Regions from separate parts of the Homo sapiens genome. Here region 1 is linked to region 2. Evidence: fine-mapped QTL for protein levels in blood plasma. Region 2 holds a variant in brackets. A gene starts in the other region. All regions are shown on their reverse strands.

Evidence for each region. PIP is the posterior inclusion probability: the model's chance that the variant is causal. Protein levels are from antibody-based Olink assays in UK Biobank. Linkage for the fine-mapping came from a reference panel and not from the study's own genotypes, which makes the PIPs less certain.
Region 1: SLURP1 starts here. The variant in region 2 is fine-mapped to the plasma level of the SLURP1 protein (UK Biobank, PIP 0.98).

The regions. Positions count from the first base shown.
Region 1 is chr8:142,738,840-142,747,162 of GRCh38, reverse strand. SLURP1 (secreted LY6/PLAUR domain containing 1) reads left to right here and starts at 4,757. Exons shown (of 3, transcript NM_020427.3): 1 at 4,757-4,835; 2 at 5,241-5,360; 3 at 5,887-6,214. The coding sequence starts at 4,778. The coding sequence ends at 6,020. RefSeq lists silencers at 7,560-7,639, 7,680-7,959 and an enhancer at 8,208-8,323.
Region 2 is chr11:120,240,760-120,249,082 of GRCh38, reverse strand. POU2F3 (POU class 2 homeobox 3) reads right to left here. Exons shown (of 13, transcript NM_014352.4): 2 at 2,566-2,634. Among named protein-coding and RNA genes, the nearest start is that of POU2F3, 4.8 kb to the right of the region's middle. The variant G/A (reference allele first, on the strand shown) is at 4,083.

The DNA.
Region 1 (8,323 bases), not on the chromosome of region 2:
TCCACCCACCCACTCATCCATCCATCTCCCCTTTTAGCCATACATTATTCACCTATCCATCCTTCTACCCATATGCCCACCCACCCATCCATCACTCTCTCCATCCATCCACCCATCCCCTATCCATTTATCTATCCATCCATCCATTCACTCATCCATCCACCATCCATCCATCCACTCATCCATCCACCCATCCATCCGTCTTCTGTCCAGTCTCCATTCATTCACTCATCCATTCATCCCCCATCCATCGACCCATCCACCCACCCCTGCATCTATCCCTCTTCTGTCCCCCATCCATCCACCCACCCATCCATCCACTCACCCATCCATCCATGCATGCACCCACCCATTCATCCATCCATCCCCCATCCATCCACCCATGCACCTACCCATTCATCCATCTATCCCCCTTCCATCTCCCCATCCATCCATCCATCCATCCTCCATCCATCCCCCATCTATCTATCCACCCATCCATCCATCCATCCATCCTCCAGCAAATGCTGCTCAACAGTCAGCATGGTCAGACCCAGGCTGTGGGAGAAGGATTCTTAGAGGAATGGAAACATGTTCTACTTGAGGAGATGACAGTCCAGTAGTCCCTCAGGCCAGCCCAGACAGGGCAAGCATCAAACACCAACAGTGGTGGTGGGGCTTTTTGACTGCATGCTGAAGGCAGTGGAGAGCCAGGGAGCGTTTCTGGGAAGAGCAGTGCCATAAGCCAGTTTGCATTTTAGCTGGTCTCTCTGAGTGGAGGGTGGAGAGTGTAGCCAAGGAGAAAGGGCCAGGCCTCTGGGAAAGAGACCGGGCTGACATGGCAGATAGCTGGGGCTTGGTGTGAACTGGCTCAGTGCTGCAGGCCTATCATGGATGAGAACTCTGGGGTTTGGGGGATTGAGCTGCCTTCAAAAAACCTGGTCTCCTGGTTCCACATGTCGGGAAAAGGTGTGGATTCATGGAGAGGCAGGAGGAGGGGAGGGCAGTCACCTAACTAGGGCATAAATTCTCCCTGCTTGAGTTGTGTCTGACACAGTGCTGCTTTTCCACCTGCCAATAGGGTGCTGGGCTCAGGGATGGGCCAAGTTAGTGCCCACTCTTCCCACACAGCGGAAAGGCTGCCTGTGCCCCTCTGCTGGCTGCTACTCCCACCCAGAGCACCCTCTGAGGACTTCCCTCCCTTTCAAAGCCAATGTGAGCAGCAGCTGAGAGCAGTACCCCTGTCCTCAGCATCCGCCCACCTCTGCCCCAAGTACACCTGCACTGTGATCAGCACAGAGCTGAGTTGAAAGCTTGATGGAGGCCCATCCTTTGCCAGATACTTGCTAGTTTTCACAACCACCCTCTGGCAGATGTTCCCCTGACCAGTTTATAGATGAAAGAACGTGGGGTGAGAGTCCTTGTGAGTAGACATGGGCTTCACGGGAGGCCGGGTGGAGCTCAGGCTCCAGAACCGGACAGTCTCTGACTCCTCTCGAAACACCTGGGTGTGTCTGTGGACCAAGCCCTGGGGAGAGGCTGCTCTTGGTTGCCATCTGTGCACCAACCCATGTCAGCCCCTTTGTTTGATTTGCAGTAACTACGCCCTCCCTTGGCTTTCTTGCAACCATCCCACAGCCTCACACAACTCACCTCAGCCCACAAGGCCAGGTCACTTCAGCTTTCACAACTACAAACAGAAAACCAAAGACTGGAAGGAAAAAGGGGCCACACCAAGGCCACAAATGGAGAGAGCAGTAGGCCAAGACCAGAACCCAGGACTCCTGGTGCCAGCCCAGAGCTCCTTCCAGCATCGAATTCTGCCTCGGAAGGGCCCATTCACTACACATTTGTCTGCCGCCACTTTTATAGCCACCCATCCCTCCATCCCTGAATTCTCCCATCCATTCATTCATTTTTTCACACATCAACTCTCTCAAATGTCATTCATTTAATAATCCATCCACCCATCTTGCCCCCATTCATCCATCCATCCTCCACCCACCTATCCACCCATCCTCCATCCATCCATCCTTCTGAAATCCATCCATCCACACATCTATCCAACATCCATCCATGCATCCACCCACCCATCCTCTGCCCATCCACCCATCCGTCCCCATCCATCCACTCATCCTCCCCTCATCCCCCACGCATCCACCCATCCATCCTCCACCCATTCCCCATCCATCCCCCACCCATCCACCCATCCATCCCCCACTTATCCATCTACCCATCCATCCACCCATCCATCCATCTATCCATCCCCCACCCATCCTCCATTCATCCCCCACCCATCCATCTATCCATCCCCCACCCATCCATCTATCCATCCCCCACCCATCCACCCATATATCCTCCACCCATTCCCCATCCATCCCCCATCCATCCCATATTCATCCCTCACTCATCCATCTACCCATCCATCCACCCATCCATCCATCCACCCATCCATCCATCTATCCATCCCCCACCCATCCTCCACTCATCCCCCACCCGTCCACCCATACATCCTCCACCCATTCCCCATCCATCCCCCATCCATCCCATATTCATCCTCCACTTATCCATCTACCCATCCATCCACCCATCCATCCATCCACCCATCCATCCATCTATCCATCTACCCATCCAGCCACCTATCCATCCCACACTCATCCTCCACTCATCCCCCACCCATCCACCCATACATCCTCCACCCATTTCCCATCCATCCCCCATCTATCCACCCATCCATCCATCTATCCATCCCATATTCATCCCCCACTCATCCATCCACCCATCCATCCACCCATCCTCCACTCATCCCCCACCCATCCACCCATATATCCTTCACCCATTTCCCATTCATCCCCCATCCATCCATCCAATCCATCCCCCATCCATTCCATATTCATCCCCCACTCATCCATCTACCCATCCATCCATCTATCCATCCATCCATCTATCCATCCATCCCCCACCCATCCTCTATTCATCCCCTACCCATCCACCCATACATCCTCCACCCATTTCCTATCCATCCCCCATCCATCCACCCATCCATCCATCTATCCATCTACCCATCCAGCCATCTATCCATCCCCCACTCATCCTCCACTCATCCCCCACCCATCCACCCATACATCCTCCACCCATTCCCCATCCATCCCTCATCCATTCCATATTCATCCCCCACTCATCCATCCACCCATCCATCCACCCATCCATCCATCTATCCATCCATCCCCCACCCATCCTTCATTCATCCCTGACCCATCCACCCATACATCCTCCACCCATTTCCCATCCATCTCCCACCATCCACCCATCCATCCCATATTCATCCCCCACTCATCAGCTACCCATCCATCCACCCATCCATCCATCCACCCAACCATCCCCAACCCATCCTCCATTCATCCCCCACCCATCCACCCATCCATCCTCCACCCATTTCCCATCCATCCCCCATCCATCCAACCATCCATCCCCCATCCATCCCATATTCATCCCCCACTCATCCATCTACCCATCCATCCACCCATCCATCCATCCATCCACCTATCCATCCATCTATGCATCCATCCCCCACCCATCCTCCATTCATCCCCAACTTATCCACCCATACATCCTTCACCCATTTCCTATCCATCTCTTACCATCCATCCATCCATCCCATATTCATCCCCCACTAATCCATCTACCCATCCATCCACCCATCCACTCATGCATCCACCCATCCATCTCCCATTCATTTACCCATCCATCCCCCACCCATCTATCCATCCATCCCCTATCCATCGCCTATTCATCCCCCATTCATCCATCCCCCATCCATCCATCCATCAACTCATCCATCTATACAACCACCCATTGGGACATCACAGGACAGAGAAACCAGAGAGGCTGGTATACCTGGAAGGACTGTGGAGAGGGGCACCTTAGTGGGTCTCACAGCATGGGGAAGATGTGGGACATCAGATGGGAGACCAGGCAATGTGGTCATTGAGCGGTATGGCATAGGCAGGCATGCGTGTGGAACAGGGTGTCGTGGGGGGCACGCAGTAAAGAGCAGACAACACAGTCAGGCCAGGAGGCTGGAGGGTGAGCAGAACCTTATTGTCAGGCGCCTAAAATCAAGAAACTCAGGTTTGGTCTAAAGGCCATTAGTGGGAAGGGGCTGGCAGTGATGAGGGGCCACTCCTGGGCCCAACCTTGTCAGCCTGAGAGTGGTCTAGCTGGCCCATGCTACCCTCACCTGACACCTGCTTCCTACCTCTGGTTTCTACTTTGCAGGTGTGTATCAGGTGTACACAGACCAGGTAGAGGTCTGTGGAGAGGGCTGCAGGCCAGGCTGCAGGGAAGGGGTGCCAGGCGGGGCTAGAGCAACAAGGGCAGAGGCTACACTGAACCTGGGTCTTAAGGGTCCCCCAGGCTGGGGCTGGGTGGCCTATGTGAACCCCAGAGGCACAGCCAGGACATGGGGGCTCATCAGAGGGGCAGTCTGAGCTCAGCAGGAAAGGCCTTCTCTGTCAGAGCTGTCCCAGGACCACTGGACATGGCTGAGGAACAGTGAGTTCCCCAGTGTTGGAGGTGTGCAAGCAGAGGCCTGGCCATCGTCCTCAGACAGAGCTCCCAGATCCAGCTCCCTGCCCGTCTGCCATGTTCCTGCCAGCTGCCTCCCCACTGGGCCCTTTACCACGTTCCTGACTCACACGGCCGGTTCTGCCACCGCCCAGAAGCCGGTGCCCAAGGGCCTGGGTATAAATCCTTGATGTGAGGCTGGCTACCTCTCATCACTTCTGAGCACGGAGCAATGGCCTCTCGCTGGGCTGTGCAGCTGCTGCTCGTGGCAGCCTGGAGCATGGGCTGTGGTGAGTGGGCCGCAGGCTGGTGGGGACCCTGCCTCTGAGCTTGTCTGCCCACCTCCTAGGGGGATGGGGCTGTTGGGGGTGCTTTGTGGCTGAGAGCCTCCTTAGGCCTCCATGAGGCTCACCCTCCTCATTCTCAGTGAGCCTCCTGGGTCCCAGAGCCCAGCTTCACCCTGGGACAGGGGTCACGGCTCCACTCTGCAGGAAGGGAGACTGAGGCTTGGTGGAGGGATGCAGCATTCAAGTCTGTGGCTCAGCTCAGTTAGAGAAAGCTGCCAGAGAGGCCCCTTGAAGGGCTGCCCGGGGCCTTGAAAGATGTCAGCGAGACTCCTTCAGCCCCTGCCTCCTGGTTCCAGGATGAGGCCACCGAGGTCAGGTGATGAGGTTCTGCCCCCATCCCTCACCCAGGTGAGGCCCTCAAGTGCTACACCTGCAAGGAGCCCATGACCAGTGCTTCCTGCAGGACCATTACCCGCTGCAAGCCAGAGGACACAGCCTGCATGACCACGCTGGTGACGGTGGAGGCAGGTGAGGCCAGGCCCCACGGCAGCCCTGGGTGCACTGGAGTCAGGGCCACCTCCCCCAAGTGCCTCCCTCCTTTGCTGGTGCTCCTCCCGGCCCAAAAGGCAGCAGGTGGGATGGGCAGAACAGGCTGCCACACCTTGGCAGGGGTGCCTTCCACGAGGGTGGCACAGCCCCCTCAGAGACCCAGTCCTGGGGCACCAGGCGCTGGAGGTGGGTGGGGCTTAATGGCCGGGGTACCCTGGGGGGCTCAAACCCCAGCTCTGACACAGACCCACTGGGTGGTGTTGCCACAGCCTCTGGGCTCGGGCTCCCATCTCAGCGCAGGCACTTCAGAGGTCTGACAAGGCCTAATAATTCATGAACAGGTCACAGTCAGAGGAGGGCTGGGCCCTGGGTGGCTTCACAGATGTGGACTATTGGGAACAGGGATCACAGGGAGGGTGAGGTCAGGCGACGGCGGCTGGGAGCAGTGCAGCAGCAGGCAGGCGCTGCAGGGGAGTGAGGGTTCTGACACTGGCCCACCCTGCAGAGTACCCCTTCAACCAGAGCCCCGTGGTGACCCGCTCCTGCTCCAGCTCCTGTGTGGCCACCGACCCCGACAGCATCGGGGCCGCCCACCTGATCTTCTGCTGCTTCCGAGACCTCTGCAACTCGGAACTCTGAACCCAGGGCGGCAGGGCGGAAGGTGCTCCTCAGGCACCTCCTCTCTGACGGGGCCTGGCTCCACCTGTGATCACCTCCCCCTGCTTCCTGCTGCTGTGGCACAGCTCACTCATGGGGTCTGAGGGGAGAGAAGCACACCAGGGGCGCCCTCTGCCTTCCATACCCCACGCTTATAAAACATAACTAAGCCAAGAGTGGACATGACTTTTGTCCTTCCTGGGCACTGACACCCTACAGAACTGGCCTTCAGGAGAGCCAGGCTGAAGGACAGCACATTCTAGGCACCTGCTCCTCCCTCTCACCCAGAGCCTCTGTGACCCATTTCACAGATAGGAAAACAGAGACTTAGGGGAAGAAATGCCTCCTGGGCCCCTTTCCTGATGCAAACTAGCCTGGCATCTCAGACCAGGACCTGTACCCTAGCCCAGGGAACATCTCCCGCTAAGAATCTCCCCTGTAAACCCTGGAGACATCGCTCCCACCCTAGAGAGGGAAGGAAGCTCAGAGTTGGCATCCACTTTCCTCCAAGGGTGGATACATCTGGCTCTGCCTGCCCAGCCCAAGGGGTCTTCCTGGGTGTGTGCACCTGGGCCTGCTGGTACCACACAGCTCCACGGTTTCAGTCACCTCCTCTGACAACTGCCCACTGTCCCCTTGGGACAGCTGAGATTAGCGGAGGAGCCCCGGGTTCTCAGGACCCAGGAGACCTGACTTCCAGGCTCGCTTCCCCCTCTTCCTGGCCCTGGCTGTCCCATCACAGTCACAGTGCTCTGTGCCACTGTCACCCCTGTCGGCAGGTGGGCAGAGCCAACGGGGAGCACGGGCTGCTGTGGGCCTGAGCCACCCCTGGACACTGCCCCTCTCCAGGCCCCAGTCCCCTGGTGTCTCCTGGGCTGCACACCATCTAAGCGCTGCCCAGCTAGGTCTTGGGTTCTAAGGCCCCACACATCAGCTGGGTCACGCCCGTGGGGTCTTGTGGGCACCTGTGCCTGCTGGGGTGGGAGCGGTATGCAGCAGGCTGTGGTCAGACCAGCTGGGCATACCCGAGGAGCATGCGGGAGTAACCAGGGCAGTGGCGGGGGTCGCCTAGGACCCCTGTGAGAGCCCACCTCTGTCTATGAAGGGCCCAGATGTCAGAACCCACCCCCTACCTCTACGCCCTCCCAGAAATACCAGGAATTAAATGCTGTCCCTGGGGAGCAGCCCCGACCAGAGAAAGCTGCCAGAGAGGCCCCCTTGAAGGGCTACCCCGGGCCTCCCCGTTGGCCAGCACCGGGCCGGCGGCGTGGCTTCCGGTTAGGGCCCGTCCCCTGGGTCATGGCCGGACCTCCAAGGGCCTCACCCGGGCCTCGATTGGAGCCAAGGGGGCAGGGCCTTGGCCTCACCAGGGGGACGGAGCAAGAAGTCGCCGCATCTCTGGCAGCGTCCCCAGCGGCACAATGGGGATGAGGCCTCCAGGCTCTTTGGGAGCGCAGTGGTGAAGGCTCAGCAGGTGCCCCTATCCCTGGGAGGGCACCTGCGAGGGGCCCCCGATGCTGAGCCCGCACGGCCAGCAGAGGGCGCGCGCCCGAGTCCCGGAACCCGCGCCAGGAAGACTCGTCCCAGAGCGCGCACCGCGAGCACGCGGCGACCCTGTGCGCTCTGCCCGGAACCTGCACTGCGCGCGCAGCTGGGCCGCCTGGACCGTAGGGGTCCGCAGCACAGAGTTCAGAGAGCCCTGGCCCTCTCGGCCGGCCTGGAGGACGCCCACCTGCCCTGCCTGTCGCCGCGACCCTCCCAGGAAATGCGTGGGGAGGCCACGGCCAGGGAGGGACCTCGGGAGGGCGCGCCCACGGGGTGGGGCTCGCGGAGGCCAGGCGCTCACCACCCGGGCGCGCGGGGTCTAGGGAGGTGAGTGGGCGTCGCATCCGTGACCGTCGCAGGACGTGGGTAAAGCTGGCGGGGAAGCAGCCAGCCGCCAAGAGGTGGCGGTGGAGGGGAGGGAGAAGGGCGCCCACCCGTGCCGCTAGGCCCTACTGCGCGGAGGGGAAGCAGAGGCCCTTCTGAACCCCACTACCGCGGAGAGGTCAGACCAGCCAGCGCTAGTCTTCCGCAGCTTTAAGAAATCTCTAAAGGAGAGGGGTGTGCAGACCGCAGGGCGTCCCTCCCCGCCCTCAGGAGCAAGACCCTCCACCTCCCCAAGGGTGCCCCCAACTCGCAGGTGTCCAGAGGGGAAGTCATGCGGGGAGCGGCGGCCTGGGCCTGGGACGAATCAGCCCCTTTGGCCTGCCTCGTTGAGCCCCTGGCGGCCATACTGGGAATTC
Region 2 (8,323 bases):
TGGGCATTCCTGACCAGTGCAGATGGGGAAATTTACCTCCCTTTCCCAGTTCTTACCCCCCAGTACCCCTTGGGGATTTCACGCAGCACAGGGGGTGCTTTCAGGGAGCTGGGGCTTTCTAAGTCACCTTTGTTTATAGTTCCTTTAAAACCCAGAGACAAACCACCCCTTAATTCATGCACTGCTGAGAAGGTGAATCTGCCTTTTAAAATCCAAAGGAAGCCATTAAACCAAGTTGGTAACCATTGTGACTCATAATAAGCTTTCTTCTGTAAAAAGAAAATGAGTCAGAACGACTTTCCAGGAAGTTTGGTTACTTTAATTAGCCACCTCTTTCTTCTTGCCCTTAAACACAGGCAGTAATTTGAAGATCACCTAAGTATTGATGCTACCAGCCGGGAGCCCTGAAGTGAAAGATCTCCTGGTGGTGGTAAAGTTCCAGACATCACGGGCTCCTTGGAGCTGAAAAGGGACCTGTGCAGAATCCTTTCCTAAATGGGAAAGGGAGCAAAACCAACCTTCCGGGCTGATGCACTGGCCTGAGTAAAGCGGGGAATGAGCCAGAAGTACTCAGCAGCGATGCCCATCTGTATATTCCAGAATCTTAATGACGATCACAGCTGCCATGTGCCAAGCACTGTGCTAAGGGCTTGAGACATCATCTCAAGTAACTCTCAACCCACTCTCTAAGTTGGGCATTACTTTTCCCCCTTTACAAAAGGGACAAGGATAAATTTTCAGGTCATGCAGCCAGTAAGCAGTGGAGCTGCAAATTTTATCCCAGGTCTGTTTGATTCTAGATCCATACTCTTCAAAGCTCATCCGTTCCTACCTCCTAGGGAGGCAAAGTGGCTGGTCTAAGGTCACATATTGAATTGGTGGTATCCCCGGATAAGAGACAGATTCTGAAGGTCTTAGCCAATGTCTGGATTCTTTCTCTCTTAACCTACTTTATATATAGCTCCCAGATAGGAAGCCAGAATTTGCTCATATTGACCATAACACACTAACCTTCCTAACCCCCACCAGGATTTGAACTCCCTCCCTTTCCTGGCTCCTCTTTCAGGGTTCTATGTGGCTCATTCTCACTCCTAACACTGTTACCCTGATTTGGTCTTAGTAACAGAACACCAGTGCAAGCTGGTTAGGCGTGGTCTTCTTTCCATGTGGACGCTCTCTTAGCTGTGTCCCCACACACCTGGGCAATGGGCCCCAGGTAAACAGAATTGGCTCCAGCCAGCCTGCTTCCAGAAAAGGGCAATCCAGCCTCTCTGGATCATGGCTCCTGGGCTGGTTTTTCTCTAGGGAAGGGTGTCAGTGTGGGGACTATATCTATCACTCTCTAGCTGAACTGAGTTTAAAGTCTTGCTCAGGTTTTTGAGATAAAAGGGAATCTTCTTCTCAACTGGGAAGAACAGGTGCCCCTCTCCACAGACCCTTAGTAAAAGATACTCTGCTAAATAATCTATTGAAACATGAGTGTGACCGGCCCACATTCTCCTTAGTCTTGCTGCCTCTGTACATAAGCAAAGCAAAATAGAAAGATTGTAGTTTGATGTGTATTGCTACCTGTGCAAGGAAACACTGTTTCAGTATTAAACTGGGGAGCAGAAAAGTTTATGGCAAATGCATACTGTGGATGCCCTCCCCGCCAAGACCCCCAATTATCTTGCCCCTGACAAGAATCTCATAGCTTCAAGAATGGAACTACACTGCTCTACAAGATTTGAAAAAGATTTTAGCTCTGGGGGACATTGATTCTCTTCCACTTCTAATTTCTATGTCTCTAATGATCCAGATGAAAGACTAATTGAGGTCTGGTTGGAATGCTATTAAAGTTATTTGGTGGTGCTACAATTTATACTCATCTTTAAGTTCTTTTTAATTATATGGAGCTTTCAAAGCAAGGCTTGAACTATGGAGGTAAAAATAGAGAGCTATGAAACTCTCTTTTTTAATTCTTCTTTGTTCCTCTCAGCTTTTTTTGGGACGGTCCAGCCTCAAACTCCTAGGCTCAAGGAATCCTCCCACCTTGGCCTGCTGACTAGCTGGGACTACTGACATCCTTTCCCTTCTTTCCAAAGCAAAGTCACCTCCAGGCACCAAGCCTTTCTCTCTGAGCCTATTTGCCACCCACATGCACGTTATTTGGAAGAGAAACATTTGTACACAGGCCTCTTTGGTTAGTGCCTTGAGTAGGACTATCAAGGTATCTGGGGCTAAAAGGCCTTGTCCCCATCTAAGAAAGACAGGTTCTGCCTCTGCCAGTCACAGCAGTTGGGAACACAGCTGCTCCTGAACTTTTTTGGTTTTGTTCTGTTTTTAAGTATCTGGTCTCTTCCTAGCCTAATTCCAGAGGTTTTGTTCCACTGTGGAGCAATATCTACTGTTCAAAGGCTCCAGAATCATATCCCATGTCCTCAGGGAATTCCCTTAGTTCCTAAGACCTAGCTTTGGGGTCTGGTTGGCTGAAAGACCAAGCAAGAAGAGACACCAGTTGTTCAACAATTCCCAACAACTCTCTTCCCCCCACCCCCTCCATCCCCGAGAAGAGAAGACCCTTACCTGGCTCCACCTGGCTGAGAGTGCTGCGAGCATCCGTGGAATCGGCTACATCCCCACTCATCTTGATATCTGCAGGGAAAACACAACTGATTTTAATAACAGGTCACAATTTTTCTTGCTATGACATATGTGGCTTTAACTAAATAACAAAGATGAATGTGTAATTACAACAACCATCAGACTTTCAAATTCCTGATTCCCGAACATACAACCATTAGAATATTCATAAGCTTGAGGGCACGGATCCCCTCCTCCCATGCTCGCCTCCTCTCCTTGCCTTTCTCTTCCCCTTTCCCCGGTGCCACTGCAGGGTCTCTCACCTTTTGCATCATTCATGGCCACTTGCTTCTATCACCAGGACTCAGTTGGTAAAAATTTAACAAGGGGGTGGAGGGGACACTTCCCATTTCCAACACTCGTTTCCTTTGGGATCTGAGGAATTTATTTTATTTTTAAATAGTGAAAGAATTATCCCTCCCCGCCTGCCTCCCCAGCTCTGTTTCCCTTAATAACCCCATCCTGGAAGGTAAGAGTGCCCTTAAACCAAGGCTTGCCCTTCTCACCTTTCTTCCCAGGTCCTGCCTGGGTTCTCTGTCTGGTCTCAGAGGTCAGCCCACAGTCTGGGGATCAAGTCCTAGCTCCTGTGTTGTCCTCCTTGGAGATCCTGTCCTTTGGGGATCCTTACCTTCTCTCCTACTCCTTCAACTGGCTCAGTGAGAAAGGGATGGCAGCGGGTCAGTGCCCCACAGAAAGAGAATACCTACACCAGGCCCCTGGCTCAGCCCCCAAGTCCTGCTGGTCCAGCCTCTCTGCCCTGCTTCATTTCAATAAATTAAACATTTACCCTTAACAGACAGCTGCCACCACCTATGTGGGAGGCCCCTAAGTCTCCTCTTGGGGTCAGCAGGGGGAAGAAGAGAGGCAACTTTGAACCAACTCACTCTCTCTCTGCTCCTCTCCTTATTAAACCACCCAAAGACTGAAGCCTTAAAGACAGAAGAATATTTATTCAAATCATGTTGACCCCCACACCCCCCCTTCTCTGGGGCAGCACTTTAACTCTTTCAAACCAGATAAAGTCTTGGTGAGCCAATTTGCGTACTCAGCTCCCCAGCCAATCCCAGTCAAGCAGGCAGTCTTAATTTGCATCAGGTAATCAGGCAGTTGGCAGTCCGGATGCCCAGGTCTGGAGATGATCAGGATGAGGAAAAAGGGTAGACCTGTGCCCCAGGGAAAGAGGGGAGAAAACCTACTTTTTCATGTGTGTGAGGACTAACGTGTGTGGCTCCGGCCGAGGTGTACACCTCTGGAGTGTAGCAGCTTCGATGCCAAACAAGACATAGATGGGGGATCCAGAGATTTAGAGGCTAGAATACCCCAGAAATAGGGGAGAAAGTCAGGAGTCACTGTGGTTTAAGGAGTTTTCAAGACCAGCCAAATTGAGGGAAGACGCCAAGGTAAACACTTAGAGCTCTATGGAACCCTCCCCAGACAAATCTACACTGCACTTTGTGGTC[G/A]GTCACAGAGCTCTGAGGAAGACCTGCAACCTTACCCCACCCCCTCCCCTCCTAGTGCACAGCGTTTAGGGAGGCATTTCTTGAGCCTAACCTCAATCCGTCCTGCTGCAGTCTCAAACTCTCTATAGTTTGCCATGCATGAATATGCAGAATAACTACTATGGACCGCCCAGACACATTTGCAAAGGGCTTCTGCTGCCACTGGCCTTCTGTTCCAATGGAGAAACGGGCTCCCCTCTCCCACCCATTAAGTACTATCCCCCCTGGAGCTGGGCATTGCCTAACGCAGATCTGCTCAGCTCATACTTCACCATGGGGATTCTTCAACAGTGCTGAGAAGAGGCCCTGAGTCAGAGACTGCTGGAAAGGTGCACAGGAAGTTCTCCCCCACTGGTGGTTTCAATTTGCTTCATCAGCACCAGGATTCAGAGCATGGGATTTGGCATCAGACAAACCTGGATTAATCTCAATGCCATCACTAACTAGCTAGGGGACCCTAGCCACATATTCGGATGTGAATTTTCTCACCTAAAAATGAGAATAATGATATACACTTCCCAGGGTTTTTGTGAGGATTAAATGAAATACTGAATGAAAACTGCCAGGAAAGGAGTTCCAGGCACAAAGTAAGCACCTAATAAATGAACTAATTAAACAGACACTTAGGCTTAGATGCTAGTCCGCTTCCCTTCCTGCCTTCTTCTCATGCCCCTCCATTAACCCCTTGCCCCATTATAAGGAATAGCTTTGGTTTTCTGTCTCAGCACCATTGTAATTTGTCCTTTATCTGGGAAACCATTAGGATTCTCCAAATTCTGACTTCACAGAAAAAGTGTTCATGAGGACAGGAAAAAGTTAAGAGGCAGTGACGCTGGGATGATGACCAGAGTCTCTGAATCAACTCATTTCAAACTCCTGAAATTTAAGAAGGTAATTCTTTAGCTAAACTGTAATCGCATGCCTAGAACCCAAATTCTCCTCCAACACCCATTCTCCACATCACCTTCATCAAATACACACAGAAGCTCTCATTCATCCTTCAAGTTAGCCTGACATTTAGTCTTAATCATGTCTAAAAATAACTTTCAAAGGCATCAACCCCCTCCCCTCCTCATCTGCCATGTTGTCTACTCATTTGATGTATCCATTATGGGATCAACAAGGTGCCACTTCAGGATTGGAGGGGCAGGGTGAGATAACCTATCAAGCCTCTTCTTGAGTCCCATAGGATGCTAAGACACTGAGAACCTGTTCCTGTTGGGTAGGAGGCTGAGGCTGATGGGTGGGACGAGCTTTTGGGTCTCAGCCTAAAAATGGGCCAACACCGAAACTCCCTGAGACACTGTAACCCTTCACCTGTCGGACAGCACTTGCCAGGGGTGAGTGAGAGAGGTGTGGGGTGGGGCCAGGCTCCTCTGTGTTATCTCAGCCAGACACTGAGTAGGCTCCTTGCCATCACTCCCTTCCCTGGGGAGGCTCAGCTGCTCTGTGAAAGAGCCCAGACACCAGCTGCAGACCCTTGGCTGCCCCACTCAGCACCATCACACCCTGAAGTTAGCGTTGGCTTGACCAGGAGTGGGCCCTCCTTAGACATCTGTGAACCCCAGGGAAGAAAGCTCGAGAGGAAGCACTCCCCACAGGCTGCAGGCTGAGGGTCCTGGACCTCCTGGGACCAGGCTACTCTGGGAAAGCAGAAGCCACAGCCCTCTCTCCTAGTGTCCATCTTCATGTTCTTGGAAGGACGGGAGCTCCCTCTGGCTCCTCCCGCACATACCTGCTGATGGCGGCACTTCCACTGGGAGACTTCAAAGGACCCACCGGCCCCACTTCTGAGCTAGCCAAGGCTCCAACTCTCCGCCAGAGGAGACTTCTCTCATTTCTTCTCAGTCCCATCATCAGGCCTTCCAACCCAAATGCTATTCCTGAGCTCCAATTGGCACCCGTCTGTGAGACTCAGCCCCCCTTTCCCAACCTTGGTGGGGAAAAGCTCACAGTGAGGAGAAGGGCAGAGAAAGAGACACCTGGGGCAAACCAGGTGTGCCCCCGCCCGCTGGCTTCCCACTGTTTTCCTTTGTCTCTTATCTGCCTCCCTAGCTGGCTGTCTCGGGTCTACTTCTCTGCCTGTTTTTAGTCAGGGAGCAGGGAGCCCCTCCTTGCTGCAGAGCCCCTGTGTCTGGTGACCCTCTGCCTGCTCAGGTCTTTGTGCTTCCAGGTGAGAGATGCTCTATAAAGTACAAGGTGCGAAGGCTCCAGGCAGACCTGAATCATGGCTCGTACCCAGGTTATCAGAGCAAGACAATGGGGCTAACTCCAGCTGGCCTCAGTGCGAGTGGAGCCCTTGGAGTGGGCGACCCGGGAGCAAGCCTATGCTCTAGTTTGTGTGCTCCTGTTCCTCCTCCTTCCCCCATCCAAACTCCTCCAGTAAGTCAATTAAGGAGGAGACCCCAAGGACCCAGCCCTGGGAATTCACAGGAGAAGTACTATTTATCAAGATCAGTAGGATACAGGATTACCTTGGCGGGGGAAAATGGGACTCAAAAGAGACCACATTTCCAAAAGAGGATCCTGGACTAAGGGACCCTAGAGAGGGACCCATAATGAGATATTCCATAGAGGGAAGAGCGATCCTCCTTCACAGACCCCACAGCAGGGTGCGCACTGGAAGACCCTACAAAGAAGATCTTGAACAGTAAAGGCCACCAGGAGGACCCAGCAAAGAGAGCCCTCTAATAGAGACCCAGTTAGAGAGATGGGACAGAAAGTCCTAAACTCAGAGACCTCTGGAGGTGCCACTGAAGGGGAACCCTCAGACACTACAGAGGGGCCAAGACCCAGAAACTGCACAGGGAGGCCAGGTAGCCCTGAGGGGGGAATGGGCTGGGGAGGGAGCAGGCAAATGGAGAGAGATGAATTGGGCAATCTACCCCCAGGTACATGGAGATCCCGCCCTGAGGAATCACCCCACCTGGGGTTTAGCTCAGTCTCCCCCCATGTGTCGGGAATACCTGCTCACAGGGACAGGGTGGAGAAGGTGTCTGGGCTTCTGAGAAGCATCAGCCAGGAGCTCACTCCTGGGGAAGGCATAGAGGCCAAGCCCTATGCCTCAACCTCATCCTCTGGTGTTCTCTGCTCTCTGCTATATCCTCTGAGGCCCCAGGCTGCCTCCCTGCTGGGTCCCAACTGTCCCACCCCCTCCCACTTCCACAGAATGGGAGCCTCCAGTAGACAAGGAGGTGGAAAACCCCCAGGAAGTCTGTGATCTTGGTGCTAAAAAACTTCCCATCCACTGCTAAGCCCACCTTTCTGAAGAGACTTGCTCCCATTCAAACCCTGGCCTTCTCTGCGGGCAGTGAAGGGGAGAGCACCTACCCGGGGATCTGCCCCAGGTATGCCCAGTCTAGAAACAGACTTTCCTCAGACTCTGGATGACACCCAGTTGGATGGCTTCTTCCGCCTCACCTAGCCTTTCTGGCACGTCCTGGAGAGCCACTCAGTGCCAACATCTCACTGCCAGTCTGCCTCTCACTCAGCCCTGCCAGGAAACAGCATCTGGGGAACTGGGCACTCCAGGTCCCCTCCCTCCGGGCACTCACTGACGCTTGTTTTCAGGCTGGGTAGGCCTCAGGCCTGCTCTGCTTCTTGGGGTGGGTCTGGAGCATTGCCTCCTCCCTACTCTCCCAGAAAGGAGACCAGGTAACAACATTCCCATCAACAGCCCCGAAATCCTAAAGAAAGATCACTGGGTCCTGCCCACTTTGAGAGTAAGTTGCTAGGTTAGAAATGGCCAGGTCAGGTACCGCTTTCTTCACTTGTTCTTTGCTCAGGCCCTGTGACCTCCAGAAGGCCCACCCTAACAGGAAGCCCCAAGCCAAGCCCAACCTGGCTGCCTGGCAGCTCCTGCCTTAGCCCAGCTGTGGAAGGAGGAACAGCAAGGTGAATGGAGGGGCTGGGTTCCCTCCATGCCCACCTCTCATTCATTCATTCAGGGAAGCCTGACTCCCGGCAAAGCATTTGCATCTCCTAGGTTTCCACCCCTTAGGGAAGGAAGGCATGGGACATGGAACCCAGAGGATGTGTCTGTCACCATCCCTTCTCAAACACATGGGGGCATGGCCCCTGCCCCAGGGGCACCTCTGTAATTGCCCCACCTCAGCCACTTCTCCTAAGCCCCCCAACCACCTAAATGTCCGCTTTGCCTCCATTTCACACATATGCCCGGACACCAGCACACAGCATGTGGA